2 linked regions of the Homo sapiens genome follow. The protein of the gene in region 1 purifies or fractionates together with the protein of each later gene. This does not show direct contact. Each region holds a gene or a part of one and is shown in the gene's direction. Other genes may lie near its edges.

Evidence for each region. The genes of interacting proteins can lie anywhere in the genome.
Region 2: the proteins of ZNF484 (region 1) and ZYG11A purify together in Homo sapiens (affinity purification with mass spectrometry; one large-scale study listed by BioGRID and IntAct). This does not show direct contact.

The regions. Positions count from the first base shown.
Region 1 is NC_000009.12:92,852,961-92,858,612, reverse strand, and holds part of ZNF484 (zinc finger protein 484), read left to right. Parts: intron 1-2,294; coding exon 2,295-2,421; intron 2,422-2,709; coding exon 2,710-2,802; intron 2,803-4,654; coding exon of another isoform or gene 4,655-4,699; intron 4,700-5,652. UniProt on the Homo sapiens protein: May be involved in transcriptional regulation.
Region 2 is NC_000001.11:52,858,684-52,863,259, forward strand, and holds part of ZYG11A (protein zyg-11 homolog A), read left to right. Parts: intron 1-2,047; coding exon 2,048-2,188; intron 2,189-4,576. UniProt on the Homo sapiens protein: Probably acts as a target recruitment subunit in an E3 ubiquitin ligase complex ZYGA-CUL2-elongin BC.

The DNA.
Region 1 (5,652 bases):
ATTTCCATTATTTTAAATTTTGCATACATTTTAAACCTCCCAGAATAGTACTGTTACTGTTTTGCATAGTCAATACTTGCAGTTTTGTAAAGAGGTATTTGAAGAGCTTCTTGAATCCTAAGGGTTGATGACATTCATAGCCATTACTTCTTCAAATATTGCTTTTTCCCTGCACTCTCCTCTTTAACTTCTCAGACTCTGATAGGTTATACCTTTTTTACTATGTCACACATATTCCTAATGCTCCTATGTTTTTTTCTTTAAAAAAAAAATCTCTGCTTCAGTTTGGATATTTTCTATTTACTTGTCTTCCATTTCAGAAATTCTGTATTTTGCTGTTAAACCTGCATAAGGACTTCTTAATTTTAGATTTTAGATTTTTCAATTTTTGAACTTTCATTTGATTCTTTATTATAAGAACCAACTCTCTAAAGATAGTCCTCTTTTCATCTAACTCCAATTCTCTGTGTGACTGTTTCTATTGAATTTTTTCCTTCTCTGATTTTGGATATGTGGTCCTATCTTTTTGGATGTGTAGGATTTTTTTGTTTGTTTTAAACACTGTGTATAATAAGTTGTAGGCAGGGCTCATACCTGGGAGGCTGAGGGGGACAGATCACTTGAGCTCAGGAGTCCCAGACCAGCCTGGGCAACATGGCAAAACCCATCTCTACAAAAGATAGACAAATTAGCTGGGCATGGTAGCATGTGCCTGTAGTCCCAGCTACTTGTGGGGCTGAGACAGGAGGATTGCTTGAGCCCAGGTCGAGGCTGCAGTGAGTCGTGTTTGTGCCACTGCACTCCAGCCTGGATGACAGAGCAAGACCCTGTCTCAGAAGAAAAGAAAAAAAAAATCTTTCTCCACAGAGGATTCATCTTTCCTTATGTTAGCAAATGGAGGGAAGGGAGAACACGTACATCCAGTCAGGCACTGTTGATGTTGAAATAAGGCCGGGTTGAAGCTCTGCTAAGACTCACTTTACCTCTGGATCACCCTGGCTCCTGAGAATTTTCAGCTGAGAGCCCTTTTGTCCTCTAAAGACCCTCTTCCTGATAGATGCCCAACTATTTTCTTAACAGATACTAGACTTTTGCTCTGTTCTTCAAAGGCTGTTTGCTTACATTTTTAGTCTACTGCCCTATATACCCTAGAATTCAGCAAATATCCTGAGGGGAAAATGGCCATGTGTTTGAGTTATGTTGGTTTCTCTGTCACCCAGCTGCAGCCTTCTACTGCATTCTCCAGTAGACAGGACAAAATGAGAATCCAGGACAAAAGCTGGATTCTCAGCTTTTGTCCACAGCCAGAATTGGTAAATGCTCCCACTGTCAGAGTGACTGAATAAGTCAGCTTCAATCTTTAATATTCTCTCCTCTCCAGTCTTAGCCCCTATATTTCTTGCTACCTCAGCAGCTTTCCAGTGCTTTGAAACAGATGATTTCAAGTATTGCGTCTGGCATTTACAGTTCATTGTTGAAGGAAGCACTGGACTGCCAAGCTACTGCATCTCATCTGGAAATGGCAGTGCTGAAAAAGAGCCCTCTCCTTCATACACCACACAGTTTACCATTTAAAGTGTACCATATTAGGCTGGGTGTCGTGGCTCATGCCTGTAATCCCAGCACTTTGGGAGGCTGAGGCGGGCGGATCACGAGGTCAGGAGATCGAGACCATCCTGGCTAACACGGTGAAACCCCGTCTCTACTAAAAAAATTTTTAAAAATTAGCTGGGCGTGGTGGCGGGCGCCTGTAGTCCCAGCTACTCAGGAGGCTGAGGCAGGAGAATGGCGTGAACCCAGGAGGCAGAGCTTGCGGTGAGTGGAGATCGAGCCACTGCACTCCAGCCTGGGCGACTGAGCGAGACTCTGTCTCAAAAAAAAAGTGTACCATGTATTGATTTTTAGTGTATTCACTCAGTTGTACAGCCATCATTATAATCAATTTTAGACATTTTCTTTATCATCCAGATGGGTGTGAGGTAATATCTTGTAGTTTTAATTTGCATTTCCCTAGTGATTAATGACGTTGAGCATCTTTACATGTGCTTGTTAAATATTTGTATATCTTCCTTGCAGAAATGTCTATTTAAGCTTTTTACCCATTTTTAAAATTATTTTGTTCGTTGTCGTTGAATTGTAGAAGTTCTTTATAGTATATTGTATCACATTAAAAATAAGGTCCTATCTTGTTTCCATTCTGTAATCTCGATCCTTCACATTGAAAGGTTTTTTTTTTTGAATTCAAATATATTCTTTAAAAAATTATTTTAAAGTTTGTTTTTTTTTTTTAACAGGAATCAGTGTCATTCAAGGACGTAACTGTAGACTTCAGTAGGGATGAGTGGCAACAATTAGACCTTGCTCAGAAAAGCCTGTACAGAGAAGTGATGCTGGAAAACTATTTCAACTTGATCTCAGTGGGTAAGCACGGCTCTGCTGGGTATAGAGTAGGCTGCACCTAATTGAGTATATTTTTCTTCTCAGTAGAATTGCTGAAGTCTGTGTTTTCTGAGGTATGTGGGACTTCTAAAGACTGCAGGACATCTAAAGTGTGTAATGGTTTTGTCCTTATTTTGTCCCATGTTCTTAATAATCTCTTTCGGGTAGTGTGAATATTCCTCTGTTCCCAGTGAACTTTTTTGGGAAAAAAATGGAATGCTTCATTGTATGGCCTCTGAAATCAAGTCCTCTATCATCCCCTGTTAACAGGATGTCAAGTTCCCAAACCAGAAGTCATCTTCAGCTTGGAACAAGAAGAGCCATGTATGTTGGATGGTGAGATCCCCAGTCAGAGCCGTCCAGGTGAGAAGGGAACCAAGAGCATGGTAGACAGTATGACTCAGCTGCATTTGTACTGGGAGAAGCTGTGCCCAACTTTGCCCAACTTTGATGTGTCATTAATAATGACTTTTAGAACTGCTTGGAAGAGCAGTTATTAGACAAGGACCCTTGGATAGCTAAATGCTAACCCCACTTAAGATCCCTTCTCATATCAATGCCTTCTTCTTTGCTTGGCTTTTTAGGAGGGAATATGCTACAATTACTGGTTCTTTGGATCATGTCACACTCTACTTTCTAGGGTCCTGTTTTCTTGCTTTTTTCTCTCTTTCCCTAGAAAAGTTTTATTCTTTCTACCTCCATCAAGGTCTTAGATCATTTCCTTATGCATTCAAATACTCATAGATCTACCTTCTGAAAACATTACTATGCATTACAACTTCAGCTCCTGCTGTTTCTTCTCATTTTGTCTCTTTCCCCTTAGTGCCTCACAATTGTCATCTAGAGATGGGCTTGTCTGAAGTCCCCCCATGCCTCTTCTCTGATTGTTGACTTTGAGAGTACCATTGACATTTTCTTCCTACTTGGCTAGTGCAACGCAACACTGACTTGATCTTTCTAATTTATTTATTTTCATATCTTACACAAAGTTTTTTATCTAGTGTACAGGTATATCCTGTACAGAAGATTGAGTTAATAATTATAGCCTTAGTTTTTAGTCAATATCATCATCAATGTGTTTAAGGCTCCCCTCTTATTTATTCTTTTTAATCCTCAGTCTCCATACTCATTTTTATCCTTCCAAGAGGCAACTGTTCTAATATATTTGACATGTTATGCCATTTATCCTTGAATTTCTGGGATATTTATAAAATCTGAGTTGTTGGCATTGTTAATTTGTAGAAATGGTACTGTATTATATATCCTACTCAAGTTTTTTTTTCTCAAATTGGTCCATGTTGCAGTGCATTATTCTAATTTCTACATATCATTCTGTAGTGCACATATATACCCCATTTTACTTGTCCAGTTTTTCAGCTACTACAAACAGTACTGCAATACATTTCTTCATGAATTATTCTTACTGGAAATGATAATTTATTTATTTATTTTTTTCTGAGATGGAGTTTCGCTCTGTCCCCCAGGCTGGAGTGCAGTGGCATGATCTCAGCTCACTGCAAGCTCCACCTCCCAGGTTCACGCCATTCTCCTGCCTCAGCCTCCCCGGTAGCTGGGACTACAGGCGCCCGCCACTGCACCCAGCTAATTTTTTGTATGTTTAGTAGAGACGGGGTTTCACCATGTTAGCCAGGATGGTCTCGATCTCCTGACCTCGTGATCCACCCGCCTTGGACTCCCAAAGTGCTGAGATTATAGGCGGGAGCCACCACGCCCAGCCGGAAATGAGAATTTCTTAAGGAAGAGGAGTGGGATTGCTTTATCATTGGGCATACTAATATTGAATATGATGAGGTATAAGCACATTATTTTCCAGATTGGCTGTGTCACTCTACGGTCCCTGGAACTTTGTACAAGGGTATTAGTTCCCCACATCCCTACCCATACCTAGTATTATCCAAATTTTTAATATTTTGGCTAATCTGATGGGTTTTAATTTCTAATTATTATTTAATTTGTATTTCCCTAATAAAATACTTTGAACATCTCATTCTGTATCCTTCATTTTTGATGTTCAACTGCTGATGTTTTCTAAGCCTCATCTCTCTCTCTTTTTTTCCTGGACAAACTGAGAAAAAAGCCCATGAGTTCCCTCCATTGTTGCTGGGAAATTCCAACTACATAAGGGAATAGTTAGCCCAGCCCCACCCGCCCCTGCCATAAACTCCCAAGACAGTCCTTTCCTTGCTCACTCTAGCCCCATCTGGACCTGCTTGGAGCTGTCCCCAGAAAGCCTCATTATGTGAGTAACAAATCTTTTTACACCCTCTTATTGTGTGTGTCTCATCGTCACTCTTGACATCTGAACCAAGTTTGGGGTGGGGTCCATTTCTCCTTGCAGGTCATTTACAGCTGGGGCAATAAGCAGGATGTCAAGGCAATGACCACCCCCACAGGGGTCTTTCTCCTCTTCCCAACTGGTTATACTGCCTGCTGGCAAGTATGCACTTTGCCTCTGTCCTATACATAACTAACCTACATTAGAAGTTATCATGGACATTTAGAGGCAGGTGTAAGGGCTTTGGGCCCTCCTTAAAGTTGCCCAGGTCCATGTGTCTCAGCCCAGCATAATCTGTGTCTTAGATTATGTGTCTCAGCTGCAGCATAAGCTCTGAGTGATAATTGGCTCATGGGAACAACTTTTACTCTGTGACTGTTATTTGTGTGTCTCAGTCAGGCATTGGCCCTATTGTATACAGCACTCAGGGGAAAGACCAATACTGTTTGCATTTAAGGGTCTGGCTGTTTGTGTGAAGGAAGACAAGATACAATGTAGCATGTAAAAGCAGGTGGCTTGCCTTTCAAAATGTTGTCATCTTCTCTTGGAGTTTTTTTACTTTTCCCTCTAATCCATCTTCTCAGATAATTCATTCTGCTTTTCTACTTATTTTTCTCATTTACAAAAGCCTCTTTCTTACCTCCCAGTCATATCACCTACAACCATGTCTGTGTTTTCTCATGCCTAGATTATTCTAATCCTATTTGTATGTGATAATCCCATTCTTTCTTTTTCACTATTTCATCTCAGATGCTGCTGATAGATTTCACTACTTAAAACATTGTGTGCTGTGTTTATCCTGTCATAGCTACATGGAAGAAAACTAAAGTTACTACTTAATATCTAACATGTGACAGATTCTCCTCTCAGTAGGTTTGTAAGCTAGAGAAAGAATATGGCCTCATATTTGCAATTCA
Region 2 (4,576 bases), on another chromosome or scaffold:
CTCACTGCAACCTTCGCCTCCCGGGTTCAAGCGATTCTCCTGCCTCAGCTTCCCGAATAGCTGGGATTACAGGTGTGCACCACCACACCTGGCTAATTTTTTGTATTTTTAGTAGAGGCAGAGTTTCACTATGTTGGTCAGGCTGGTCTCGAACTCCCAGACCTCAGGTGATCCACCTGCCTTGGGCTCCCAAAGTGCTGGGATTACAGGCATGAGCCACCATGCTTGGCCCAGAGCTGTTGTTTTAAAGTAACTCTTTCTTTATAATAATACCTCCTTAGTTCTTCCTAGGGGAAGAGAATAAAGTGATTTGTATACTCATTAGTTGTGTTAACATTTTATTCTTTTGATTTGAAGTTAGCAATTGTTGTATTTTAATTAATTAATTAATTAATTTTTTATTGAGACAGAGTCACTCTGTTGTTCAGGATGGAGTGCAGTGGCACAATCTTGGCTCACTGCAACCTCTGCTGTGAGCTGAGATCCCCAAATTTTTTTTGGGACAGTCGAGTCCTGCTCTGTCGCCCAGGCTGGAGTGCAGTGGTCCGATCTTGGCTCACCACCAAGGATTATCTCTTCCCCCCTTGGATAAACTTGGCATCTTTGTTGAAAATCGGGTGTCCGTATATGTGTGAGTCTGTTACTGGGCTCTTTATTTTTTATTTTTTTTGAGACGGAGTCTTGCTCTGTCGCCCAGGCTGGAGTGCAGTGACACGATCTCTGCTCACTGCAATCTCCGCCTCCCGGGTTCACGCCATTCTCCTGCCTCAGGCTCCAGAGTAGCTGGGACTATAGGCACCCACCACCACGCCTGGCTAATTTTTTGTATTTTTAGTAGAGATGGTGTTTCACCGTGTTAGCCAGGATAGTCTCGATCTCCTGACCTCGTGATCTGCCTGCCTCATCCTTCCAAAGTGCTAGGATTACAGGTGTGAGCCACCACGCCCAGCTGGGCTCTTTATTTTTATCTGTTTGTGTATTGCCTTTTTTTTTTTTTTTTTTTTTTTTTTTTGAGACAGAGTCTCGGTCTGTCACCCAGGCTGGAGTGCAGTGGTGTGATCTCGGCTCACTGCAACCTCTGCCTCCCGGGTTCAAGTGATTCTCCTGGCTCAGCCTCCCTAGTAGCTGGGACTATAGGCGTGCACCACCACGCCCATCTAATTTTTGTACTTTTAGTAGAGATGAGGATTTACCATGTTGGCCAGGCTGGTCTTGAACTCCTGACCTCAGGTGATCTGCCCACTTTGGCCTCCCAAAGTATTGGGATTACAGGCCTGAGCCATTGTGCCCCGGCCTACTGTCTTGATTACTATAACTTTATATGAAGTCTTGAAATTGGGTAATGTGACTTCTTCAACTGTTATTCTGTTTCATAATTGTTTTGGTTATTCTAGGTTCTTTGTATTTCCATATAAATCATAAAAGCAACTTGTCAATATCTACAAAAAGGACTACTGGTATTTTAGTTGGGATTGCATTAAATCTGTAGGTCAGTTTGAGGAAAATTGCCGTTTAATAACGTTGAGTCTCATGTTGTTTTAAAAAATAGAGGCGAGGTCTCACTATGTTGTCCAGGCTGGTCTCGTAGTCCTGGGCTCAAGCAACCCTTGAGCCTCAGACTCCCAAAGTGTTGGGATTACAGGCATTAGCCACCACGCCTGGCGCTAGTCTCCTGATTCTTGAATCCTGTATATCTCTGCATTTATTTAGATCTTTACTTTCTCTCAGCATATTTTGTCATGTAGCTGGGACTACAGGCGCCTGCCACCACGCCTGGCTAATTTTTGTAATTTTAGTAGAGATGGGGTTTCACCATATTGTTCAGGCTGGTCTCTACTCCTGACCTCGGGTGATTCACCTGCCTCAGCCTCACAAAGTGCTGGGATTACAGGCGTGAGCCACTGCGCCTGGCCAACACCTGGAACATTTAATTGAACATTTGTTGTTATTGTCTTAAACACTGGATGCCCCAAAAACCCTGTGGTTAAAAATGAATGGTGAAAAAATATGAATGGTGAAACCTGTTTGGTAACATCTTTATTTTCAGGTTGCTGGAGGAGCCAGTATGAGTCAGATTTCAGAAGCACTGAGCCGATACAGGAACAGATCATGTTTTGTGAAGGAAGCCCTCCACAGGCTGTTCACAGAGACATTTTCAATGGAGGTAACCATGCCTGCTATTTTAAAGGTAATTGAAGGAAGACAATTTTTACTATTACTTCTTAACTTGGTTCAATTAATAATTGTTCACGAACCACACTGAATATAATAAATTATATGCTTTATTCTATAGTGAGTCAAGTGCTCTCATAGAGCAAAGAATGTTAAGCTTAGCTGCCAAAGTGTCTTTTGCTTTGAGCATCTGGATTTATGTGGAATAAATTAGAATCAAAACAGTTAAAATTTGGTCTAAGTAAGGGAATAATAGGATCATGTGGCTTTCTGAAAGAAAACAAGTGCAGAACAAAATAAAAATAATTAAGGGTGGCCAAATCTACCACTTGAAGTATTTTGTGAATGACATAAAGTTGCTTTTATCGATATAGCCAAACTTAGCTTTGGTTTAGGGAAGGATGCGTTTTATTGTAAATGTAATTACAAGTATTAAGAGGCTTGGGAAAGAAAACTTCAGTTATTTATTTTTCTTTTATACATGTGTTTATTTGAAAATTGTTGTTTTTAGTGAAACATAACAATGAAAGGTCTTAAGAAAAACCTTGTCTTTATTTGTAATTTTTTGCAATTCCTTAAAAATGTGGATATTTTCCCAGCACTTTGGGAGGCCGAAGCGGGTGGATCACGAGGTCAAGAGATTGAGACCATCCTGGCCAACATGGTGAAACCCCGTCTCCACTAAAAACAATACAAAAATTTGGTGGGCGTGGTGGCGCACTCCTATAGTCCCAGCTACTTGGGAGACTGAGGCAGGAGAATCGCTGGAACTCGGGAGGTGGAGGTTGCAGTGAGCCGAGATTGTGCCATTGCACTCCCTCCTGGTGACAGAGCGAGACTCAAAAAAAAATATTTTTACAGCATGGGAGATTAACTTTATTTACAGCTCAAAAGCTGTATAAAGAAAAACTCTGGGTCAGCTGTGGTGGCTCATGCCTGTAATCCCACCACTTTGGTTGGGAGGCCGAGATGGGAGGATTTCCTGGGGCCAGGAGTTCAAGACTAGCCTGATCAACATTAGTAAGACCCTGTCTCTACAAAAATTTAGAAAAAGAAAAAAAATTAGCTTCTGGCTGGGCACCATGGCTCACGCCTGTAATCCCAGCACTTTTTGGGAGGCTGAGGTGGACAGATCACCTGAGGTCAGGAATTTGAACAGCCTGGCCAACATGGTAGAACCCCGTCTCTACTAAAAATACAAAAATTAGCCAGGCGTGGTGGCAGGTGCCTGTAATCCCAGCTACTCAGGAGGCTGAGGCAGGAGAATCACTTGAACCTGGGAGGTGGAGGTTGCAGTGAGCCGAGATGATACCACTGCACTCCAGCCTGGGCGACAGAGCAAGACTCTGTCTCAAAAAACAAAAAAAAAGTTAGGTGGGCATGGTTGTACATGCCTATAGTCCCAGCTACTTGGGTGACTGAGATTGGAGGACTACGTGAGCCCAGGATTTTTTTTTGGTTTTTTTTTTTTTTTGAGACGGCGTCTCGCTCTGTCGCCTAGGCTGGAGTGCGGTGGCTTGATCTCCGCTCACTGCAGGCTCCACCTCCCGGGTTCACACCATTCTCCTGCCTCAGCCTCCCAAGTAGCTGGGACTACAGGCGCCCGTCACCACGCCCAGCTACTTTTTTGTATTTTTTAGTAGAGATGGGGTTTCACCGTGTTAGCCAGGATGGTCTCGATTTCCTGACCTCGTGATCCGCCCGCATTGGCCTCCCAAAGTGCTGGGATTACAGGCGTGAGCCACTGCGCCCGGCAAGCCCAGGAGTTTGAGGCTGCTACAGTAAGCTATGATGGTGCCACTATACTCCAGCCTGGGTAACAGAGCGAGATCCCAACTCAAAAAAATAAAATAAATTAAAAATTCTCGACCTTTTTTTCCATCTGTAAGGAAGAGATTGAATTAGATGTTCTTCTGTTTTTGTTTGTTTTTGTTGTTCTTTGAGACAGGGTCTCACTCTGTTGCCCAGGCTGGAGTGCAGTGGCATGATATGATCTCAGCCAACTGCAGCCTTGACCTCCTGGGCTCAAGTGATCCTCCTGCCTCAGCCTCCTGAGTAGCTGGAACTATAGGCATGCCCCACCATGCCTGGCTGTTTTTTTTGTTTTTTCTGTAAAGATGAGGTCTTACTGTGTTGCCTAGGCTGAATTTAGATGTTCTAAATTTCTTTTCATACCAGGATTGTGTAGTTTTTGTGAAAATCACATTTCTTTTGGTTTCTGGATTTCTAAATTGCAGATGATGGCAATCTAATGAAACTGAAAAATCAATTTAGCAATATACAAAAAAAAAGTCATTTTCCATAGCAGAAGTATATCCCAGGTCTGTCTCTAGTAGAGGAAACAGATCACAGTGTCCTTGAATGACAGAGCAGGTGGGGTCTAAGCTTGGAACAATGCCCTCAT